Linked DNA regions of Homo sapiens: regions 1, 2 and 4 are each linked to region 3. Evidence: fine-mapped expression QTL. A gene starts in region 3. Each other region holds a variant in brackets. All regions are shown on one strand. Distances are between the middles of the regions. Region 1 has its middle 39 kb from the start of TLR4. Region 2 has its middle 32 kb from the start of TLR4. Region 3 holds the start of TLR4 (toll like receptor 4). Region 4 has its middle 25 kb from the start of TLR4.

Region 1 (5,862 bases), 39 kb after region 3:
GAGGGTACACAGTGTCTATTTAGTGACTAAATAATGAATGCCACTTGCCATCTCTTAAATACCAGACTTAAAGCTTCCTAACTGCCCCACCCACTGCCATACTCTGAGGGCTCACTTACTTCCTGAAATACATATGAAGCCCATCTGCCCACAAAGTACATACAAGGAACACATGGAGTGTCACAGATGTAGAATTCACAAGATCTTTAGGGATAAGGTTAACACAGGGGAGTAATGGACTCGATTTGATATTCTTTTTCTTTTTTTGAGACTGAGTCTCACTCTGTGTCTCCCAGGTTGGAGGGCAGCGGCGCGATTTCGGCTCACTACAACCTCCACCTCCTGGGGTCAAGCGACTCTCCTGCCTGCCTCAGCCTCCCAAGTAGCTGGGACTACAGGCACCTGCCACCACTCCTGGCTAATTTTTGTATTTTTAGTAGAGACGGCGTTTCACCATGTTGGCCAGGCTGGTCTCGAACTCCTGACCTCAGATGATCTGCCTGCCTCGGCCTCCCAAGGTGTTTGTGATTACAAGCGTGAACCACTGCGCCCGGCCTCAATTTGATATTCTTGCTGAAAGTGTACTAACAGGCAGATTCTGAATCTGAGGAGAGCCTGTAAATCCCCTTTTCATTAAAGCTCCCAGGTGATTCTAATATGTAGTTAGGATTTTGAAACAACTGTGCTTTGATTTTTACAAACTATGGTGCCTTATGAGATACTCCATAAGCCCCTGACACATACTCTCTGTTGGTTTGCCCAAGACCATGGGAGCCAGGCATGGTGGCTCATGCCTGTAATCCTAGCACTTTGGGAGGCCCAGGCGGGAGGATCACTTGAGGTCAGGAGCTGGAGACCAGCCTGGCCAATATGGCAAAACCCTGTCTCTACTAAAAATAAAAAAAGTAGCTGGGCATGGTGGTGCACGTGTGTAATCCCAGCTACTGGGGAGGCTGAGGCACAAGAATTGCTTGAACCCAGGAGATGGAGGTTGCAGTGAGCCGAGATGTGCCACTGCACTCCAGCCCAGGAAACAGAGTGAGACTCTGTCTCCAAAAAAAAGGAAAAGAAAAAGAAAGACCCCATGGCGGTTGCTACCATTTTTCAGGGTGGGCAGGGCTACATTCAACAATCACAAGCGCACAGGGATTTGTGCATTTCTGATGCTCCTGGCAGTGACTACACAAAGCATAAATCACTTTTATCCTTGTTTCCACGACTTGTGTTTGATGTCATTGCTACTAACATTGTGCATTGTGCTTCTTGTATTTTCTCCTTTAAGTTTTGGAAAACCTTTTCCAGGAAAGTACCATTCATGTTTTACAAACGAGGAAACGAAATCTCTAAGAGGCTAGATGTTCTTCAGAAGATATCATAGGTGAGCTGGGCTTTGATCCCAGGTCAGTGGAGCCCAAGAGCACACTTTTTCTTTTAGGTTCTCAGAACCCATTGCCTCTCTTGAGTCTGGTCTGTGTCTCTTCATCTTCTTAATATGGCTCTTTGGAGAAGGGATCTTTAGTTTATTTTATCTCATTACTATTGCAGGACGAACAATTTCAGAACAGTTCCTTGGATATGGGTGAAGTCCTTAGTGAGAGGTACACCCTTTCGACTCAATGTATTCATTCAGCATTGAGTATTACATTGGCAACCACTGTGCTAGAGTCTTGCTCTGTCTCCCAGGCTGGAGTGCAGTGGTGTGATCTTGGCTTACTGCAACCTCCACCTACCAGGTTCAAGTGATTCTCCTGCCTCAGCCTCCTGAGTAGCTGGAATTACAGGCATGCCCTACCAAGCCCAGCTAATTTTTGTATTTTTTAGTAGAGACAGGGTTTTATCATGTTACCCAGGATGGTCTCGATCTCCTGACATTGCGATCTGCCCTCTTCGGCCTCCCAAAGTGCTGGGATTACGGGCGTGAGCCACCGCGCCCGGCTGACACTATGGATTCTTAACATGTATCCCTAAAGTGTTTACGGATGGGGAGGTATGCCCTGTGAATTCTTAAAATTGTGTGTAGTAATTATATGTATACACATGCATTTTTTCTGGGGAAAGAGCACAGGCATACATTGGAGACATTGTGGGTTCAGTTCTAGACAATGACAATAAAGCAAATATTGCAATAAAGCAAGTCACAAAAACTTTTTGGATACCCAGTGCATATACAACTTATGTTGACACTATACTATAGTCTATTAACTGTGCAAGAGCATCATGTCTGAAAAACCAATGTACATACCTTAATTTAAAAATACTTTATTGCTAAAAGATGACTACACTGAGATAGGAAGTAAGCACATCATGCTGTTGGAAAAATGGTGCTCATAGGCTCATTCAATGCAGGATTGCCACACACCTTGAATTTGTTTAAAAAAAAAAAGAGCATCATGTCTGAAAAAACAATGTACATACCTTAATTTAAAAATATTTTATTGCTAAAACATGATGACACTGAGATAGGATGTAAGCACATCATGCTGTTGGAAAAATGGTGCTCAGAAGCTTATTCAATGCAGGATTGCCACAAACCTTGAATATGTAAAAAAAAAAAAAAAGCAAAATCTGTGAATCACAATAAAATGAAGTGCAATAAAATGAGGTGTGTCTATACACAGCCTTCACTGGATTTTCAAGGAATTTATGACCTTCAGCACTTAAGCAGCAATAAAGTCTTTGTCTACTCTTAGGGTCTAAGATTCCAAATAATGGGCATCTCCTATCTTGAGAACTCTTAATAGGCAGAACACCATTCTCCACTCCAACATTTGGAAGCATATATCCATAAAGATAATACTATCAGTTAATATTTACTGAACATTTACCATATGTCAAGCACTGTTCTAAGATGCTTAAATGTATTAATGCATTTATTCCTCACAATAATCAAAATGAGAGAATAGATGTGAGGAACAGAGAGGTTAAGTCACTTGCCTGAAGTTGCACAGTAAGTATCAGGGCTAGAATTTCAGCCAGGAAGTCTTTTCCTACAAGCAACACCCAGTGCAATTCACTACCTCTATAGAAACAAAGAAATCAGCCTACACTAATTTCTTGTGTACTTTTGGAGGTTCAGACCAATGTAATGCACTTGCAGTGAACACTCTGGAGATGCACACCTATAGCCCATAGAAACTTGCCCATGATCTGAGTAAGAAGCCCGTATGTACATAGTTTAGATCAAAACAAGGCAAACTAGGGAAAATACTACATTGGCTGTACATGCAAAGAGTAGCAGGGAAAACCATAAAGGAAATATGTTTTATTTGGACAACCTAGAAATACCTTATGGCAGTGGGAATGTCATTCCAGGCCCAGCAGTGTGGATGTTCAAATGATGGTTAATTTTATATGTCCTGTCAACTTGGCTCAGCCATGGTACCCAAATTATTGGTAAAATACTAATCTACATGTTATTATAAAGATAATTTTAGGTGAGATTAACATTTAAATCAGTAGACTTTGAGTAAAGCAGATTACCCTCCATAATGTGGCTGGGCCTCGTCCAATCAGCTGAAGGCCTCAAGAGGAAAAGGCAAATGACCCCTAAGTAAGAGGAAATCCTGCTTCCAGATTTTCCAAGTAGACTTTCCAAACAGAGCTACAATATCAACTTTTCCTTGAGTCTCCCACCTATTATCCTGCCCTTCAGATTTCAAACTCACCAGCCCCACAATGATA[T/C]AATTTCTTAAAATAAATCTTTCTCTGTACACACACACACACACACACACACACACACACACACATTTTATCAGTTCTGTGTCCCTGGAGACCCCTAACTAATATAGTTTATGTTGTATTTTCCAGTGGCAAATATCCTGGTATGGCTGTAATGTAACTGTGTAATGATTATTTAAAACACAAGGCAGAAGACATTGGCTGAGGCCAGGTCATAGAGGACATTAAATACCAGGTGAGAGAACTTGTATTTCATTTTGTATGTAATGGAGAGTCATTGAAGGAGTCTCAGGAGAAGAGTACACAAAGATCTTTGGAAAATCTTATTTAATAATAGCATGCAGGATGAATTTGTGGTGGCCAAGACAGCAGGCATGGTCCCAGTTAGTTGAATACTGAAACCACTCAAGTGAGAGAATTGAAGGATCCCTAGGATGCAAAAACTAATTGGATGGAGTTGGTGATGAAAAGAGATGAGTGAATGATAAAAGTTTCAAAAGGCTGATTTTTGCTGAGTCATTCTAGGAGATTGTTTTCCCAAAATACTTTTACAAAAGACACAGCCTATTTACATTATTGGATGGAAAGGGAGCAGAATAATGATGTTTTTGAGGCTCTGGAAGTGGGTTTGCTCTTTCTTTCCCTTTTGCCTTCCACTATATGACGATGCAGTAAGAAGGTCCTCATCAGATGCCAGCACCTTGACCTTGAACTTCCCAGCCTCCAGAACTATGAGGAATAAATTCTGTTCTTTATAACTTACCCAGGTGGTGGTGTTAGTTATAGCAGCACAAAGTGAACTGAGCCATTTCTATAGCTTAAGCTCTATCACTTCAGTTTCCTTAAACAGGACATGGCTCTTATACATGTACCTACAAAATGTAAAATATTAGACGTGATATTGTATGGTGAGTGCCTGCTATGGTGTCTGTCATATAGCGATTCCCGTCCCACACCCCCTGCCAATTTCAGTTACAAAAAAGAAAAAATCCAAGTGATTGGTATCAAGGTATTCCCCCCACTACTCAGATCTGCTGGCCTGATTGTAGGCAGAATAGGGAAAGATTCATACCAGGCAACGTAGTGTGAAGAAACAGTAGCAACTCCAGGTTTTCTACATAGGAGCCACAATTAGATTAGCAATGGGGTAAAGAGGAATTTGTCTTGAGGTTGTGTTTTTGTATTGAACACATTACATTTACCTAGGCCCTCTTGACTCAAAGGGTGGTCCACACACTAGCAGCATTAGCATCATCACAGAGCTTGTTAGAATCTCAGGTTTCATTCCAACCTATTGAATCAGAATCTCATTTTAATAAAATAACCCGTTGTGCACACATTAAAATCTATGAAGCCCTTGATTAGGCTGTATATGACGGGGTGGCTTAGAAGGGCATTGACAGAGATCATGAGGTAGGGAATACTGCCTTTCCACCCCTAACAAGCCAACCCTCCACATCAACTCTACGTTAGGAGAAATAAAACAAATAGCTATTGATATGATTTGGTTGTGTCCCCACCCAAATCTCATCTTGGATTGTAATCCCCAGAATCCCCAAGTGTCACGGGAGAGACCCTGTGGGAGGCAATTGTATCATGGTGGGTGGGTTCCCCCATGCTGTTTTCATAATAGTGAGTGAGCTCTCACAAGATCTGATGGTTTTATAAGGAGTTTCCCTGCTCTTTCTAGCTCTTCTCTCTCCTGCTGCCATGTGAAGAAGGTCCTCGCTTCCCCTTCCACCATGATTGTAAGCTTCCTGAGGCCTCCCCAGCCATGTAGAACTGTGAGTCAATTATACCTCTTTCCTTTATAAATTACCCTGTCTCGGGTATTTCCTTATTGCAGTGTGAGAATGGACTAATACAGCTATGGAGAAATCCTAGGGTCACCATATTTAAGAGTGCAAGGAAAGGATTAGGAAGATAAAAGAGCAAAACAATTACCCTAAAGGGTTGTTTCCAAACATAAATAAATGAGCCCAAGAATAATTTTTTAAATTATCTTTTTAAGAGAAGCCAAATATATAGCAAATAAATATAATCAAAACTGTTCTGCCTAAGATAGATCATGTGGGACCCAAAGAAGTCCTTCCCCTGCCTCCGCCCAGGCTAACTCAAAGCTACCTCCTCAGAAACCTAGTTTGTAAGTCGCTGCCCTAGAAGCACTTGCTTTTACAGGTAAAT
Region 2 (5,862 bases), 33 kb after region 3:
AAAACAAGAAGGAAATACAATCTCATCTCATTGATGCAAGTCTGCCACATATGCTACAATACTTGGAAAAATTTTGCTAGTGTTTCTTTTATTTTACGTATTGCATTTTACTTTATTTTTTCTGGCTGTGTAAAATTTGATATATGTAACAATTATAGGGACAGGTGTTATTATATTTAGAAATATTCATTTTAAATATAAAGAAATTTCAACTTACAAAGATAAGTCACCACACAAGTTTGTAAGCAAGAACAAGCCAGAAAGATCAGTGTCTTAACTGTCCTGTAAGTGCCATGCTCATATCTTCACTGTCTTATAAGTACCATGCTCATGTCTTCCCTGTTTTCGTGTTTCAACTACAGCTTCCCTTCTCCATCCCTGGAGAATTTCCTCTGCCTTTTTTGCCTAAGAAATTATATTAGTCCTTAAACCCACCTCGATGTAGTACATAACATTTACATTTTGGAGTTACAGCTGTGTGATGTTGGACAAGTTGCCTATGCCCTCTGAACATAAGGTTCCCCACCTGTAAAATGGGGGTAATATAATTAACTTAACAGATAATTGTGAAAATTTACTCAGACAATGCATATATATGGTCTAGGACTAGAAACTGATGGAATCAGAATTTAAACCAGGTCTGCATGATTTAATACATCATGTTGCCTCACAAATATTGGAAGCTCCATAAAAGTGGCACTGTCCTAACCAGCCCCAATTGGCCCTGCATGCAAATCTTGGGCCAATTCTAATCCCCTCAGCCTAGATTTTCATTGTGCAAAACAGGTATACTAATTATGTCTAATTCATAGGAATATCATGGAAATTAAATGAAATGATGTGTGTGTCTGGCATATACAGAGAACTTCAATACATGATAGATTGTTATTTTTCATAATACCAATGATAAAATGACAATGGTGATTAAATTTACGCTTTCTTTTTGTTATTCGTGTCTTTTTTCATTCTCTGTACTGTTCATTGCTAGGCTGGAAAATACCTTGTGCCCATTATCTTTCCTCTTGAGGAATGTCAGCAAAACTTTTTTGAAGAAAGCAAAAAAGTTTCAAATGCAGGCATTTTAATTAAAAAGAAAAAAATAAAGAAGAAAAAAGACAGGGCAGAGAGGTTGGATTGAGCTGTTTCTTTATATTGAGAGTTTTCCTGAGGGCGGGCTGCTCATCATCTGTCTTCCTGCTGTTTTGCACCTTTGCTTATACAATACATCCACTCCTAGAGGCATCTTAGCAGAAAAAAGATGAAAGGGAAGCACTGGTGCTCCTTCTGGACACAAGAAACAGAACAGATGAGACAAGAAATGAAGAAGACGTGAGGATGGTGAAATAGGCTGGGCCAGGAGAGGAGGAAAAATATGGAAACATGGAAGAAGAGAAAGAAAAAAAAGGAGGACAAAGAAGAGAAAGAGGAAGTGAAGGAGAGAAAAAGAAAGGAAAAAAATGAGGAAGAGAGAAGAATGATGAAGGAATTAAATCACAGGAAAGACAAACATGAAGGGAAATGAGAATGATAAAAAGAAATGTGGAAAAAGGGAAACAAAGGTGAATATGATGAAATCATAAGAAAAAAAGTAAAAAGAATGAAATAAATGAGTGAAGAAAAACAACAGTGATAAGAACTAAAACAGTCGTTAATGTGAAATAAAAGGAGAAAAGGAGAAAAGCAAGAAAGGGGAAACAAACTTGAAGAAGAAGGAGGAGAAGGAGGAGGAGGAGGAGGAAGCAGCAGAGGAGAAAAGAAGAAAAAGTGATGAAGCAGATGCTGGAAATTAAGATACTACTTCTACTGTCTTAAGCAGCTCGAGCTCACATTAAAAAAATCATAAATTGGGTGTCTTAAATAACAGAAATTTATTTTTTCACAGTTTTTTCCAAGGCCAAGGTGCCAATATAATTGATTTCCGGGGAGGGCATTGTGCTTGCATTCTGGGCAACGACCTTCTCACTGTGTCCTCACATAGAGGGGAGAGAGAGAGAATCAGAGAGCAAGCTCTGGGGTGACTTTTCTTAAACAAGAGCAGTCATCCCATTGTGAAGGCCCCACCCTCATGACCTTGTCAAAACCTAATCATCTCCCAAAGGCCTTGCCTCCAAATACCATCACATAAGGGTTAGGGTTTGAACATATAAATCTGGGGGGTGGACACAATTCAAGTCACAGAACTGCTATTAATGATCATAAACACACTATCAATGGAAAGTGGGAAGAACGGAGTTAATGTAGCTTATACACTTTGTGCTTCAAATGAATGATTTTGTTATAGTCACTCTAACAATGCTCTAAGATATCCACGGTGATTTTACAAATAAAGAAAGATGTCCATATTTTCTTTCCTCCTTCTAATAGCAAATCAAAAGTTATTTTGTCCTGAATGTCTATTGATGCCAATGTATACCAGACCTTTTTTTTTTGTATCGCAATTTTTAATATATTAGGGCTTTTTATTTCTTAGTGGTCATGAGTCATTTCAGGGCATTCTTTGAATACCTTATCTTCCTAGGTCACAGTAGATATTTCTAGGCAAAAATGTGGAGGAGGAAAGAGAAGATGGGGCTTGGCTCAAGGACATAACACATCCTTGTTTGACCTGAATCATCTTGGTCAATGTTTTGACCTGAATCATTTAATAAACACAAAAGGGAGATTATGTAAGAGGAGGTCTTTGAAAGAGGCCTGAAGTAAATCTGGGTGATTCAAGAATAAACCACAGGAAGGATGGAGCCTAAAATCATGGATTGCATAAGTTTATAAACCTTACCTTCTCTACCTAATCAAAATTGTCCTTGTAAAGGAGCCATCTCTTTCCCTAGTTCCAAGTAATAATTGCTAAATCTCTCTGAAAAAAAATGGAGTAAGTTGAGATCTGCAAAATTTTATTTTTAAGAAAAATGTAAGAAACATCAACTTCATGAAAATTAAAAATTTGTTTACATTAATTTAATTTCAACTAATGGCACTGCAAATATTTGGTTAATTTTTATGTAAAGAAAAGCAATCATGAAATTTTATTCATGAAAACCACAGTAACAAATGATGAAGTTGAATATATCTCAAACAAGTCAAATTGTGTGTTATCACCCAGTGCTGGGTCTAGAGTGTCCTTTTCTTAGGAAAAAAAAAAAAACCTACAAAATAGAAAAAGTATTATTTCAAAAAGGGCAGAAAATAAAAACAAAGAAAACTTTCTTCTAGAAATTAATCCTATGATGACTCATAGCCAAGTTCCAAAGATATCTATGCAATAATATCATCATAAATTCTTTAGAAAATTAAAACATGCATTCACACACATGCACACACAC[C/T]TACATATACACACATGAACATCTGAAAACAATTTAGATATCCATCCTATGGCACATATTAATTAAAGCACAATCTTTGCTCATACAGGGAGAAAGTGAGTGTTCATCAAAAGGACACTAGGATTCTACATTTATGGACATAGAGAGATAATATCTTGTCAAGTGAAAAAAGCAGACCACAGGAAGCATGGACAGTATGATCTCATTTATACAAAATGTTCTCTGTGTGTGTGTGTGCATGTGTGTGTATGTGTGTGTGTATGCATGTATGTGTTTAGGTGCAGTGAAAGAAATGGAGGAGTACAAGAGTACCCATAAGAAATAATAGATTTCAGAGGATTTTCAACATAGTATTAGCAATTGACATTTACGTGATTGACAGAATTTCTTCTCTGTACTTTTCTAAACTGTTTGAATTATTTTTCTAAAACTTAAAAAAATTAAATACATCATAATACAAAGTATATATATAATCTATAAGTATAATTTTGAAATAATAAAGAGAAATTGTCATAGGTACATGCGAACCCATCACATAGTTTAAGATATATTGTTTAAATTATTTACAGTGGGTTAATATGATTTTATAATCAGAAAACGTGCATACACTTTTGGAATAAATGAGAATGAAAGGTCATATGAAACATCCATGCTCCTCATGGCTAATGCATCCCATCCTCTCCCACATTTGGTTTTGTCTTGTTTACCTACATGAAGCTATTAGTGTATATTACACCGCCTCATTTTCATTAAAGCCAGATCTTAGGAGGCCGAAGCGGGTGGATCACCTGATGTTAGAAGTTTGAGAACAGCCTGGCCAACATGGTGAAACCCCACCTCTACTAAAAATCCAAAAATTAGCTGGGCGTGTTGGGTCACGCTTGTAGTCCCAGCTACTCGGGAGGCTGAGGCATGAGAATAACTTGAACTTGGGAGGAGGAGGTTGCTGTAAGCCAAGATCATGCCACTGCACTCCAGCCTGGGCAACAGAATGAGACTCAGTCTCACACACAAAAAAATCCAGACCAAGCCTTAATTACTGTTTTCTTTCCACAAATCCCATAAACCTACCCCTAGCAGCCAGTACAGTGCCTAGTACATGGTAGATATTTGGCAAATACGAGTTGATACAAAAGATAAAAATTATAGACAGATTGATAAAATGTTTGTATAAAAAAGTTATCTCTTTAATTCACAAAGCCTTCCCTGTTTTCACGCCTAAATCAGTAGTGACCATAGACATTCTATTTCCTGCCTCGTAAGCTGCTGCACACTTATGAAAACCCTCTCTGTATAATCTAGCAATAATTTCTTATCAATATTTACTAAGCATCTGCTATGTGCCAAGCACTGTATTAAATTTTGGATATAATTTGGGGGATTTTGTGCAAAGGGCCTCATGACTGCCCCTAAGAGAATAATTAAAAGACAATATACTGGAAAATGAGGTGGAAAAATCAGGCTTCAAAGAGAAAATTCATTCTATAAATAAAAGCCCCATTGTATTACATGCATTTGAAATCTAAACCACCCTATTCTTTCTTAAACTTTATTTCAAGTGCTATAATTAATTCCCCAAATATTTTTCTCTTAATAAGGGTAAGTAAGTTTTCTCTTGGGTCTTTGCTACCATTTCCAAGTCCTCTTTTGACATGAAGATCCTTTCTTCATGGATCATTAGGGTCTGTATGAAGAATATTCTTTTTTTTTTTTTTTACAGTTTGAATAGACAAAAAAGGAAAATGCCCTATATTGTTCATTATCTACGCTTCAATCCCTGTGATAGATGCTCCACATACATGATCTCCTTTAATTCTCAAAATTACACTAGGAGCTCTGCATAATTATGATGTAACTAACACCCTACTCACCATCCTCCCCTTCCAAAGGTCGAAGTTGCTCTAGAAAGCAAAGTGGATAAAAGTAGCACTAACATTTCTCTCCCTGTCATTCTTACTTTACTCCTCTAAAATACAGTGGGTATTTTTTTAAGGCCATTAGAACCAATTTAAAAGAATTACTTTAGGACCCTCTTTAATGGGTATTGTAACTGGCTCTCATTTAGCACGTTTGCAGTAGGTAAATAAAGGTATAAATTGGGTGAAAACAGTTCTGGGAGGCGATGCCATTTTAATTCACTTCAGGTGTTCTTTATTTTACTTTGATGGTTTAAAGGTCAACTTTTCCATATTCCCAAATAAATTATTTTGCATTCCTATTTTTGTGACATGTAAATAGATATGCTCTCTAGAGACAGCATCGTAAGGGGTACTATATGCCTAAGACTTAAGGATGGATTCAATCCTGGTCTTGCCAGCGATGAGGCTCATGGTTTGGGATGCTGGTGTCCTCTGTTCTCATCAAGCCTGGCTATTTGTATCACTCTATTCTTTTCATCTGCAGTTTTTCAAACATTTTTGCACACAGCTACTGAGCACACCTTTATCTAAACCATCTTTTGCCATTATATTTCTTGGAGCAATTTCTTCTTTTTTTTTTTCTTCCTTATGTCATAAAATTGCTTCTGCTCTCAAACTTCCCA
Region 3 (5,862 bases):
AAGTGATGTAGAAATAGGGGGAAATCTTTAGAGTGCATGGATTCCCATGGTGGAACCTAGTAAATAAGGTCAAGTGCTTTATGCTGTCTTTGTTTTTACACTGCTTTCTAGCCTACTTTCCCACATTCTTTGTAAGCCTAATTCTCTAACGCTCCCATCTAATTTCTGAATGCTCTCATTTCCTCCAACAAAATTCCTTGCAGAAGCCAGCTAATTGTAGTTTTCTGTTGTTTGAAACCAATAGAATGTTTGAAGGATTAAATGAGATAAGGTGTTTAAAGAGTTTATTTAAAAGCCCGCTACAGTATAAGTGATCAATAGATGTCAACATTAATTATTATCATCTATCATTAATCCCTTACCATATGCCTGCATAGTTCTTGTTTGTTATATACTTTCACTTAATCTTCAAATAAGCATTTAAAGATGAGGAAAATGGAAATTCAAAGAAATGAAGTAATATGCGCAAAGTCAGAGTTCAAACATGCAGATCTTCATTCGTATGTCTGCTTAAATGTTGCAAGCCATGGAGCCTCAAAGACAATATTGTCTAATAGAAACAGTGCCAGGCACTCTTTCTTTGCCCTCTTTTATTCCCTTTCACGGGAAGCACAACCATCTAACATTATGTTGTCTATCTGATTGTTCTCATCGTATTGTTCATCTCCTGTATTCCATTGCAAGTTTGATGGGTTTGCCCACTGCTTTGTCTCCAGCACTCAGAATGGTGTCTGGCAAATGGTTGGTGCTCAATAAATATTTGCTGAATCACTAACTGATTGAATAACTGATTAAATGAAGGTTTACTTAAGTCCAAATTGTAGGCATTTCCTGCCAAGTGCTGTGGGCATTACAAAGAAAAATATGATGCAGCTCCAGACTTCAATGGACTCACAGTCTAGAGTAAGAGTTTAGATAGGAGCAAAGCTAACACTATCTCAAGGGGCCATAAAATAGGCTTAGAAAATATGCCCTGTGGTTCAGAGAAAGCAGAGATCAAGTCTGGATTCAGGAAAGGCTTCCCAGAAAAGGAAGATTTTAAAGTGGGTCTTGGAAGATGAGTAAGGTTTAGATATGTGGAAAGGGGAAGAAAAACATGTCCTAAGGAGAGGACAACGTGAGCACGTAAAGAGTGGAAAACAAACTCAGATTAGCTGGTGAGTGGTGGGAGTGGTGAAATCTAAGTAAGAGGGCAAGCCAGATCAGGAGGGCCTCAGACTTTGTCCTGCAGCAATTATTTCAATCATTTATCACTTACACATCTAGCGGCTACTGTGTGCTGGCCACTGGAAATATAGTGGTAAATAAAACCAGCAATGATCCTGCCTCCTTACCGATTCCATTACAAAGGGAGAGAGAGAAAATAAACAAACAAAAATATAAAATGTTGTGCTCTAGAAAAAAAAATATTAAGCAGTATAAGGGGATTTGAGGCAAATAAGTGAGGCTGGAGAGCTCTACATGGGGCAATCAAGGAAGACTGCCCTGAGGAGGGGACATTTAATCAGAGATCTGAATGGAGTGATTAAAGCATGAAAAGGACTTGGGCTGCACTGACCAATACGGTAGTCACTAGCCATACACAGTTATCAAACACAAGAAATGTGAATAGTGTAAATTGAGAAGTGTGGTAAATGTAAAACATATACTAAATTCCAGACTTAGTACCAAACAAGGAATGTAAAAATATCAATAATAGGTAAATATATATTAAAATTTTAAACATTATTTTAAATACGCTAAGTTAAATAAAACTATTATCGAAATTAAATTCACTTGTTTCTTTTTTTAATGAGGCTACTAAAAACTTTAAAAGTACATATGTGGCTCACATAATATTGCCAATGGATAGCACTGATCTAGCATTCTAGGTAGAAGAAATAGCCAGTGCAAAGGCCCTGTGGTAGAAAGCTGTTCTAATGGCAATGGAGAGTTATTAAAAGTTTTTAAGGAGAGTAATTTGTTAGATTGAAGCCTAAGGAAAAATAATAACAACAAATGCAAGTACATAACAAACAAGAACGTGCAGAATGAATTAAAGGAAGAAGACTGGAATCAGGAAAGCAGTTAGTGTGTAAGAGTCAATGCCAGGGGAAATGAGGGCCTGCCTTACAGTGGAACTAAGGGGATGGGCAGGGATGGACAGGCTTCAGGGACTGACAGGAAAAGGTACATGGGGAAAAGAAGTCAAGTTTGGCTGTGGTTTTATCTCGCAGTGAGCCTAATTAGAAAATCTATCTCCATTAACCTAACAGCAGAGGGATACAGAGAAGAGGACAAGGAGGAGGACTATGGGCAGGGAATTGAGGGAAGGGATGGCTTCAAGATAATGAATTAGTCTTTGCTAAATATTACTTGATTTTCTCCTATATCCTCAACTTCAGGACTGCAGCTGGCTTTTTCTCTCTTGAGTTTCTGACCCTGCCTCACTGTAAATCATTTTCTTAGCTGTTCGGCTCTACTATGGGTTTCTAAAGCAACTGTGAAGTCTGCGCAGGGGAAAAACAAAAGAGATCCATCATGAATAAGATTACCAACCAGCTGATTGGTATTTCACTAAGAAAGAAACTGTTGCATTAGCTGACATTATACATATTTCCCTCTTGCTTTTTTCTTCTCTCTCTCTCTCTTTTCCTTTTTCATTCTCTTATTTTTTTCATCCTCTGGACTAAACTATATTACTGCATACAGAAGTCTGACACCCACTTAGAAAGTTCTTTCTCTAGAGACACACACACAAAAGCCATCTTTTTCCTGAGATTGAAAGGAGCAGGGTGACTGCTTGAAGCTGAGTGTAAAGACCACCAGTGGGAAGAAATGACACTGAAGCAGTCTGCTTACTCTCTAGTGAAGAAGGTATTATAATTCTCTTACAGATGCGAAAACTAGTCTCAGACAGGTTTGATAATTTCTTCACAGAGCCACAAGGTAGCAGAGCAGGGACCTTAAGCAGATCTATGTTATCTCATGCCCCTGTTAGCACTCAAAATTTCCAAATGGAACAAACCCCCAATGGCTGCCTCTAGTGCCCTGTAACAATGAATTATTTGATCTCTGTGGCTTCTTGAGTCTTTAAGGTAATTTAACTCTTTTTTTTTTTTGCAAAAATAAACAAACCAGGGCACACAGTGAGAAGTTCTGGGCAGAAGTGAGGGAAAGTTCAGAGGAGCTGACTCCAGCCACATACCTCCACGCAGGGCTCCCAGCTTTCTGGTCTCACGCAGGAGAGGAAGGCCATGGCTGGGATCAGAGTCCCAGCCAGGCGCGAGGCAGACATCATCCTGGCATCATCCTCACTGCTTCTGTGAGCAGCAGTGGCCCTGTGAATGCGTGGCTCGCTATCACCGTCTGACCGAGCAGTTTCTGAGGCACTGGTGTCTTCTCTTCCTCGAGCCGCCCCACAGCAATTGGTGTATTCAAAGCAGTTCTGGGCTAAAGGGTGAGAGGAAGTGAAAGCGGCAACCTTAGCATTCTGGACTTTTGTTTCTCTAATAGTTATCTCTTTTGTCACAGGAGAGGAAGTTAGAAGAAGAAAACGCCTGCAGACCAGTGGCTAAAGAAACAGCAAGAGGAAGCTAGTTGGCTTTTATCCCAATTAGTCATCTGACCTCTGCCTGGGCTTGGTGAATTTAGGAAAACAATCAGGTTCTATTAAAATAGCCCTTGTAACTCTCTAGGATGACGGTGATTTTCCAATTTTGTTTCAGCTGTGGAAACACTATTTGTATTAGTTTGCTGGGGCTGCCATAAGGAAATACCACAGACTGGGTGGCTTAAACAACAGACATTCATTTTCTCACAATTCTAGAGGCTTCCAGTCTGAACTCAAGGTGTCAGCAAGTGTGTCTGAATTCTAATCTCCCCTTCTTATAAGGACACCAGTTATGTTGGATTAGGGCCCACCATAATGACCTCATTCTACCTTACATACCTCTTTCAAGGCTCTCTCTCCATATACAGTCATAGTCTGAGGTAGAGGGGTTAGGACTTCGATATGTAGGTTTTTGCAGGACACAATTTGGCCCGCCCCTTCTTGTGAAGAAACTCACATACAAAACTGAAAATAAACCTCAACTGAAACACAGTTTGAAAAGTACAAGAAGATTGGGAAAAGTCTGGGATTTCAGAATGGAATATACTGAAGTTCAGATCTCAGCTGGGTGACTCATGGCTTTGAGGCATTGGTCAAGTCATGTAAACCGCTAAGCTTTACTTTCTTTCTTTTCTTTTTTCATTTTCTGTATTATGGTAAAATCACATAACATAACATGACATAACATAAAATTTATTATCTTGACCATTTGTATGTGTACAATTTAGTGGCATTAATTATGTTCATATTTTTGTACAATCATCACCACTATTCATTAATAAATAACTCCCCATTTCCCCTTTCCCTAGGCCCTTGAATCTATGCACTACTTTTGTCTCTATAATCTTGACTACTCTAGGCAGCTCTTAGAAGTGGAATCATACAGTATGTATCTTTTTGTCACTGGCTTATTTCACTTTGCATAATGTCCTCAAGGTTCTTTTCTGTGTAGTATAGATCAAAGCCTCCTTCCTTTTTAAAGCTGAACAATATTCCATTGTATGTATAGACCACATTTTGCTTATCCATTTGTCTGTTCATGGACACTTGCATTGTTGCCACACGTTAGCTATTGTGAATAATGCTGCCATAAACATGGTTGTACAAATATCTCTTAAAGTCTCTGTTTTCAATTCTTTTGGATACGTACTCAGAAGTGAGATTGCTGGATCATGTGGTAAATCTATTTTTAATTTTTTGAGCACCCACCATATGATTCTCCACAGCATCTGTACCATTTTACATTCCCACAAATGGTGTACAGGAGTTCTCATTTTTTCACATCTTCACCAACACTTATTATTACTTTCTGGTCTGTAAAATGTGGTAATCACTTTTAATCATAGCAGAAGCTTGCATTTATAAAATGTATTAAAATAAAGATACGCAATGGTAGTCAAATTATACAAACCTACCAACCTTTAGTTTTCTGGTCTTTAAAACGAAGATAATCGCATGTGTTTTGAATTACTGAATTAAGCTAACTTACGTAAAACGTCTAGTCTAGAGCATCATCATTACATTCCATAAATGAGAGCTATGATGAGGATTGAAAATGTGGATAGAATGAAGATGATAATATGTATCTCAAAGTATTGTATTGGGATTAAATGAACTGGCATTTGTAAAGCTTTTAGGACAGTGTCTGGAAAGTAGCAAGTGCAATGTAAGTTTCTGTTAAATAAGAACCTGATTTAAAACAGGAATATTATGCATGCTAAGTCCTAGATAGTTCTACTGTAATATCCTCCAAGCACTTCCAATCCAACGTGTCAAAAACCAAGCTGTGAGGGACCATTTTGTGGTGGACTGGGCACAAACTCTTGTAGACTCCATCAACACACCAGTAGAGTTAAGATAAAAACAACCTCCATGTCAAAGCTTTGCTCTGAGTATTGAGATTATTCATGTAAAGATTTTAGAGCAGTGCCTGACACAGAGTAGGTGCTCAATAAAGTTTAGTTCCCTGGAAAGTTAATGGTGTTTCACTTTGACATAGTCATCCAAGGTGGAAATCTCTTTGACTTTATTTCCCTTACTTCCTCATTTCTCATGCTAAACATGTATTAACCCAATTGTCTTCTTTTCTGTGTTCTTGATGTTCTGGCATCTGGGAAGAGACTGCACTTACCAGGGCTAGTTAGTTCTAAAAAATAGCAAAAGATTTGCTCTGGAGCATGCCTTATGCACACTAAGCAATCCAGAGCCCTTCCTCTGAACCACCTCCTCTACCTGGCTTTTACACCCAAGTAGACACCGTTATTCAGCCC
Region 4 (5,862 bases), 26 kb after region 3:
GAGGATAATGGGCTTCCACTTCCTCATCCTGAGTTGATTTTTTAATCTCCTTCATCTGTATTCTTCTGATTCTCTTTTGTAATGTCCGTTATCTTGCAGCAGTACTAAATACTTATATCAACTCTTCTCACTTGTGCAATTTGGATTACCACTTTTCCGCTTACTAACCAAGTGGCTTCAGTGATGTTAGTAAGCCTCTCTGTGCCTGACCTTCTTCTGTAGAGTGAACAGTAGTTTCCTCATACAGTATGAGATTAAATGAGATAACAAATCTGGAACTCTGCTTAGAATTGTTCTGGACACATAGCAAAATCAATAAATATAAGCTGCAGTCGTTATAACTCAGAGTAAATTATAAGATCTTTGATAAATGGGACCATGCCTATTATTTCCCACAGTGCATTTCTGCAAATCCCAGAGTAGACAGGACAGTGCTAGGTATGGAAGGATGCACCCAATAAATCGATACTGACTAAATGGATAAATTAGTAGTAGAAATATCTTGGAAACTAAACATCTTTCAAATATTCAATAGGAGAGGTCTTCAGCAAAGCAAAGAAAAAACATCTTCCTAGAATAACAAGTAGTTTAAATAACTGTGTGCATGCATTAACAGTACTTATTCCAGGCAACATCTCAAAAGCAAGACAACACATCTTCACAGAAGCCTATGCTCCTTGTTCCTAAGCAATTAACACTAAAATAAACCATAGACTTCAGAAACTCCAATGGAAAACTGAAGCCTAGAGAATTTTCAGAAAATTCCAATGCATGTGTACACAAGAGCACAAACTAGAGTTACTTAGATCTTTTCATTCTACATGTTATCCAGTTTCAAGGTCATTCCATAAAGCTTTTTCTAAATAACCCATCTACAAGTATCAAAACTCCTCTTCTGAGTACTAGAAGAACATTCTCTATGTTTCTTTTAATTTTTACATGTATACATTTTCTATACACAGTACCTTATCTTGAGGCAGTAGACTTTGAATTCAGAAAGACCTTCATTAGATACCAATTCTGTTACTTACCATCTGAGCATCCTTGAGCAAATTCTCTGATTTATTGAAATCTATACGTAAGAGCTATTGTTGGAAAGATTAAATAAAATAGTACATGTAGACATGCAACAAATATAAGTTTCTTTCTTTTCATCCCTTTTTTTCTCCTAACCATATCTCTGAAAGTTCTTTGATAATAGGCCCTCTTCCACTATAGTACAATATCCTCCTCAGAGAAGAATAAGCATTTATTTCATTTGTTCTTCTATGCTTAGTACACCTCAGGCACCATTTATGAGTAAAATACCATTAAGACACAGAAATTATATTTCTACTCCAACCCAACCAAAAGTGAGAGTATACAGCCTTCTGTTGTGTAGTTACCCTTAGAAGAATAGAGAGTGAACAAGTTATCTCTAGTGTCTAAAGGGTGAAAAAAAGAAAAGAAAAGAAAAACAGACTGAAAAAGTAATGATTACATATTTTTGCTTCTTTCATTTCTGATTTCCCCAAGTATCTAATAAATTAAAATAAAACAAACTCCAAGATGCACATTCTTCTTATTTCTGGAGGAATAAAATCAAGGAGCTTATGGAAGACTTCAAAAAATTGTTGCAGTAGATATAACATGAAATGGAGGGGAATCATAGATTGTAACTGACTTTCTGCCTTCATACGCAACAGGAAGAATGTACGTTCATAGGCAACAAAGTGTTAGTAATCCTTGGTTGAAATATTGTTTTACCTCATGCAATGATAGTTGAGATCTAAAAGAAAAATTTTAAAATGTAAGAATATTAGGTTGGTGCAAAAGTAATTGCAGTTTTGCCATTACTTTTAATATATAATTAAATTTAAAATATAAATTAAAATGTAATGTATATTACATTTAATAATATAAACATACACACAAATGCATACACATAAAACAGAGTTATGGACCTGAAACAATCTATTCTTCTAGGAGAAAACAAGTAATAAAACCAACAGGTAACAAGCATTCAGAGATAATTGCCAGTAATACTCAGACATGTGTTTGATGATTAATAGCAATAGATTTCACAGAGGTGGTTAATAAAGAGGCAGGCAGTGTTGAGACAATATATAAAATGATTAAAAGTGAAATGGTCTTTGGTCCTCAAAGGAAGAAGGAAGGCCTAAAGAGTTTGTCTTTCCCAATACCTGTCACTAAGAAGGTTTTGTGGCATTGAGAAAACCAAGAAGAAGTTAAAGATAAAAACTTGCAAATGGAGAAATTATTCATATGGAAGTCTTGAGCAGTTATTTAACCACTCTTGAAAGTGAAACCAAACAATATCTCAGGCCTTTTTCAGCTTTATGAAAAGACTGATTATCACTAATTTCTTTAAGTGTCTGTTTTTAGATAATGAAAACAGTGGCTGAAAGAAAGAAGATGGAGTCAAAAAAAGTTTAATACTAAAGATCAAGAGAGCCAAATGTTGAATATTTGGCAACAATTGAAAGTACGAATCCCTGAGATTCAAACCTGGAAGTGCTGATTTACGTGCCAGAAAGCATGTGTTAAAAAGTTGTCTATTAGCCACATTTATCTAAATGCAACAGGAAGGATATGACTCCATCTTCCTAAATGGAATGCCTTCCAAAGCTCAGCTCTCTGAGAAATTTCAGAACAAATTTTTTCTTTCAGAAAAATAATCATTCTTGAATGCAAAAAGGACCAGTAGGAAATACATCTGATTATTGTTGAAACTGCTATATGTGGAACCCTCAAAAGTTTTCCTATCCAATACCTTCCTTGATTTCTTTGATTGGTAAGTCTTTGAAATTGCTGCACAAAGTAATCAAAAATGGAGAAGAAACATTTTTTTCCTATGAAGAATGATTCTAAAGAAGTGGATCTTAGTAACCAAGTGGAAGGGAAAATCTCGGCAAAGCCACTGATCTAATCCAATGCTTCCATTCTGCTGACAAGGAAAACAATAACATAAGCTAATTCTTCTCAAAGATAAGCAGTTGAGAGACAAAACCATATAAACTGAACCCTGGACTTAGCATAAAAAGATCTGAGTCATTTGTCCCTGCCAGGTTACCCACTAACAGTGAACTTGAGAAAGTAACATAAACTCTCTCACCTCATTGTCTCAGGTTGGTCATCAAGGGCTGCTAGTGCAAACATTCTCAGATTCTGGGATACTTTTATGATTAGACACATTCATAAAGAACAGACC[G/A]TACTGGCTTTAATCCCAAACTATGACAATAGGGAGTTGGAAAGGTATTCTTTTTCCAAACAAATTCTCCTTTAGTATTCCAAATAGAAAGGGAATATGATGAATAGATCCCTTGCTATCCCAAGAATTCTGTTTTTTCCCCTAGTGCTATCAGTTACTTGATATTTAGTTATTTGCTTTTTTAAAAAAAAAGTATTTTCTTTTCTTGCTATGTGTGGATCACTCAGGAACAAAAATATTTGGCTAAATATTTTTGACATTAACTACTTAATTTGAATATTTTTAAGATTTGCACAACTTTTTTAAGATATTACCTTGCTTGAATAAATTAATTAGAAGATTATCTGTTATGTAGCTGCACATAATGAACCCTTCCCAGATTGGGTCATTCCTAGCCATATTTTTGCCAATATTTTAAGGACCAATTTCTCTCCTAAACTTTGTCCCTTTATGTAGAAAGTATTCCCAACCACAATATATACTTGGCAGTTAAAACTGAATGTGGGTGGAAAAGAAACAAATCTTTCTTGCACATTTCTCATTAAATCCCAAAACCTCTTTGTAGCTTATTTTTAATTCTTTAGAGAAAAATCCTGTTACTAAAAATGTCTGGTACTACCAGAAGATATTACTTTTTGTCTTTTGATCCTGGGACCTGCAACCTGAAGAAAGGTATTGTGCCTTCACTAGGGTATAAGGATTCTGGGTTATCTTACATAACCTGTTGCTGAGTTAATTCAGGAGAAATGAAATATACAAAGAGCAATATGCCCTACAACTTTGACATCATCATCAACACCATCATTATCCATCATTGTAGCAAACACTCATAGCATTATTTAGTTTGAGGCACTGTTTTAATTACTTTACACATTTTAACATAATGAAGTAGAAATGAAAATGTATTCACAGCTTGTGTTATAAAAATTCAACTTGTAAATGTTGTATTAAAAATTTATTCTTCTGACCATCCTAATACAGATCTATTCTTCACAAAGCTGTCCTGGGATATGAGTACCACCCAGTGGTGATGTGTTTATCCATTAAGTTTAATATTTTCTCCTATCAAAATTTTTCTTACCTCCTCCAGTAATGATAGTTACATTGCCTTTCACTAAGTAGGGTTTAGTTATTTAAACTTCAGATGAACTTCCTGAGTGTATTATTGGAACATGGTTTTCCTTCCCCTTTAATATTTGCATTGTTCTCTGAGGATGGATTATAGCTTTTTCACTCTGACAACTTGGGGTTTGGCCATGTGACTTGCTTGGCCAATAAAATGTATGTGAATGAAAATTAAACCATTGCAACCATAAGCTTTGCACTGGCTTGTGTTGTTTAGCTTTGTCTCTTGCACTTCTGCCCTGTACCATAAGAATACACCCTTAGAGGCACTGTTCCTTAAACTCAAGTTCTGGAATAAAAGATAGATGGAGCCAATCAAAATCAACCCATAGCTTGAACTAAAGCTTCCTAATTGACCTGGATAACTGTGAGGGAGAAATAAATATTCATTGTAGACCATTGAGACTTGGGGGGTGGTTTTTTATGCATCATTATTGAAACAATAGCTAGCTAATAAATTCTCATATGTTCATGAGCATGTTAATTATCTCCATTGGCCCCCACCCCTTCCTCTTCCAAATCTTGTTTACCTTTGGTAAATATATGTTCCTCCTTCAATTTTCTTTCCCTAGGTTTTATTTATAAGTCTCCAAAGTCTTTAACGATGGTCAATGAACATAAAGCAGTTCATTTATCAATGAACTGATAAATCTTTATCAAAGAAATATTTATAGTATACTTAATTAAAAATTTTAAAGTAGCTTTAAAATGACTTTGTATTCAATGTTATTTCCATATTTTCTTTCAATGTTAGTCTTGTAACACTAGATTCAGATTGCCTGGGTTTGAATCCTGATTCTGTATTCATCTCTTACTGGGTATGAGGCCTTGGACAAATTTCTTATTAATGCTTCTACTTTCTCACCTACAAAGATGACAAGAGTAGTATCACCAATACAAGGTTCTTTGCAAGATAAAGGTAGTTCATACACGTAAAGGAATTAGAACAGTCCTGGAAAATGGTAAAAACTCCAAAGTTGGCTATTAACTTCATCATCATCATCTATCATATATCAAATCTAGAGAAGGTTGTTTGACCTATAATATGGCTTAATTAGTTGTTTGTGAATGTGCTTGAAATAAACAGTCACCTCTAATTCCTTTTAATTGGAAGATATAATTACTACCTGTAATTCTAGATGATATATTTCTATTTTAAATGTGCTTTAGTAGTCTTCAAATAATATAGTCTTCAGAAGAACTGTCTAAAGGAAAAAAGGAACAAGGAGTAATGCTTAAATTTTAATGTTAAAAAATAACTAAGGATGAAAGAAGTTAAAGGATTTGCCCTAAACTCTCATGAGTAGTTGTATCAGAGCCTGGGTGGAAAAGAACAGACTTACACATAGACTCTTTTTTTTTAAGGGTGGTTTACTTATGGTTGATTCCAAGCTCTTTTGGAATTTAAGTATCACTGGAAAATATATTGTTAAAAAATGAATATAGAAGTCCTCAACAGTCTTCTAGTGTATGCTTTTCTAGGAAAGGATAGATCCTCTTCTTCTCCCCTCTGAAATATTTGACCA

The links. PIP is the estimated chance that this variant, and not a neighbour inherited with it, causes the effect. A credible set is the group of variants that fine-mapping cannot tell apart.
Region 1: its variant is the best candidate, but not a certain one, in a credible set for the expression of TLR4 in tibial artery (GTEx, PIP 0.59).
Region 2: its variant is the best candidate, but not a certain one, in a credible set for the expression of TLR4 in whole blood (TOPMed, PIP 0.53).
Region 4: its variant is the best candidate, but not a certain one, in a credible set for the expression of TLR4 in tibial nerve (GTEx, PIP 0.88).

The regions. Positions count from the first base shown.
Region 1 is chr9:117,662,941-117,668,802 of GRCh38, reverse strand. No RefSeq gene overlaps it. Among named protein-coding and RNA genes, the nearest start is that of TLR4, 39 kb to the left of the region's middle. The variant T/C (reference allele first, on the strand shown) is at 3,682.
Region 2 is chr9:117,669,324-117,675,185 of GRCh38, reverse strand. No RefSeq gene overlaps it. Among named protein-coding and RNA genes, the nearest start is that of TLR4, 32 kb to the left of the region's middle. The variant C/T (reference allele first, on the strand shown) is at 3,321.
Region 3 is chr9:117,701,891-117,707,752 of GRCh38, reverse strand. TLR4 (toll like receptor 4) reads right to left here and starts at 3,350. Exons shown (of 3, transcript NM_138554.5): 1 at 3,188-3,350. The coding sequence starts at 3,280. RefSeq lists enhancers at 1,465-2,664, 2,780-3,280, 3,251-3,320, 3,331-3,380, 3,281-3,781 and 1 more.
Region 4 is chr9:117,676,335-117,682,196 of GRCh38, reverse strand. No RefSeq gene overlaps it. Among named protein-coding and RNA genes, the nearest start is that of TLR4, 25 kb to the left of the region's middle. The variant G/A (reference allele first, on the strand shown) is at 3,212.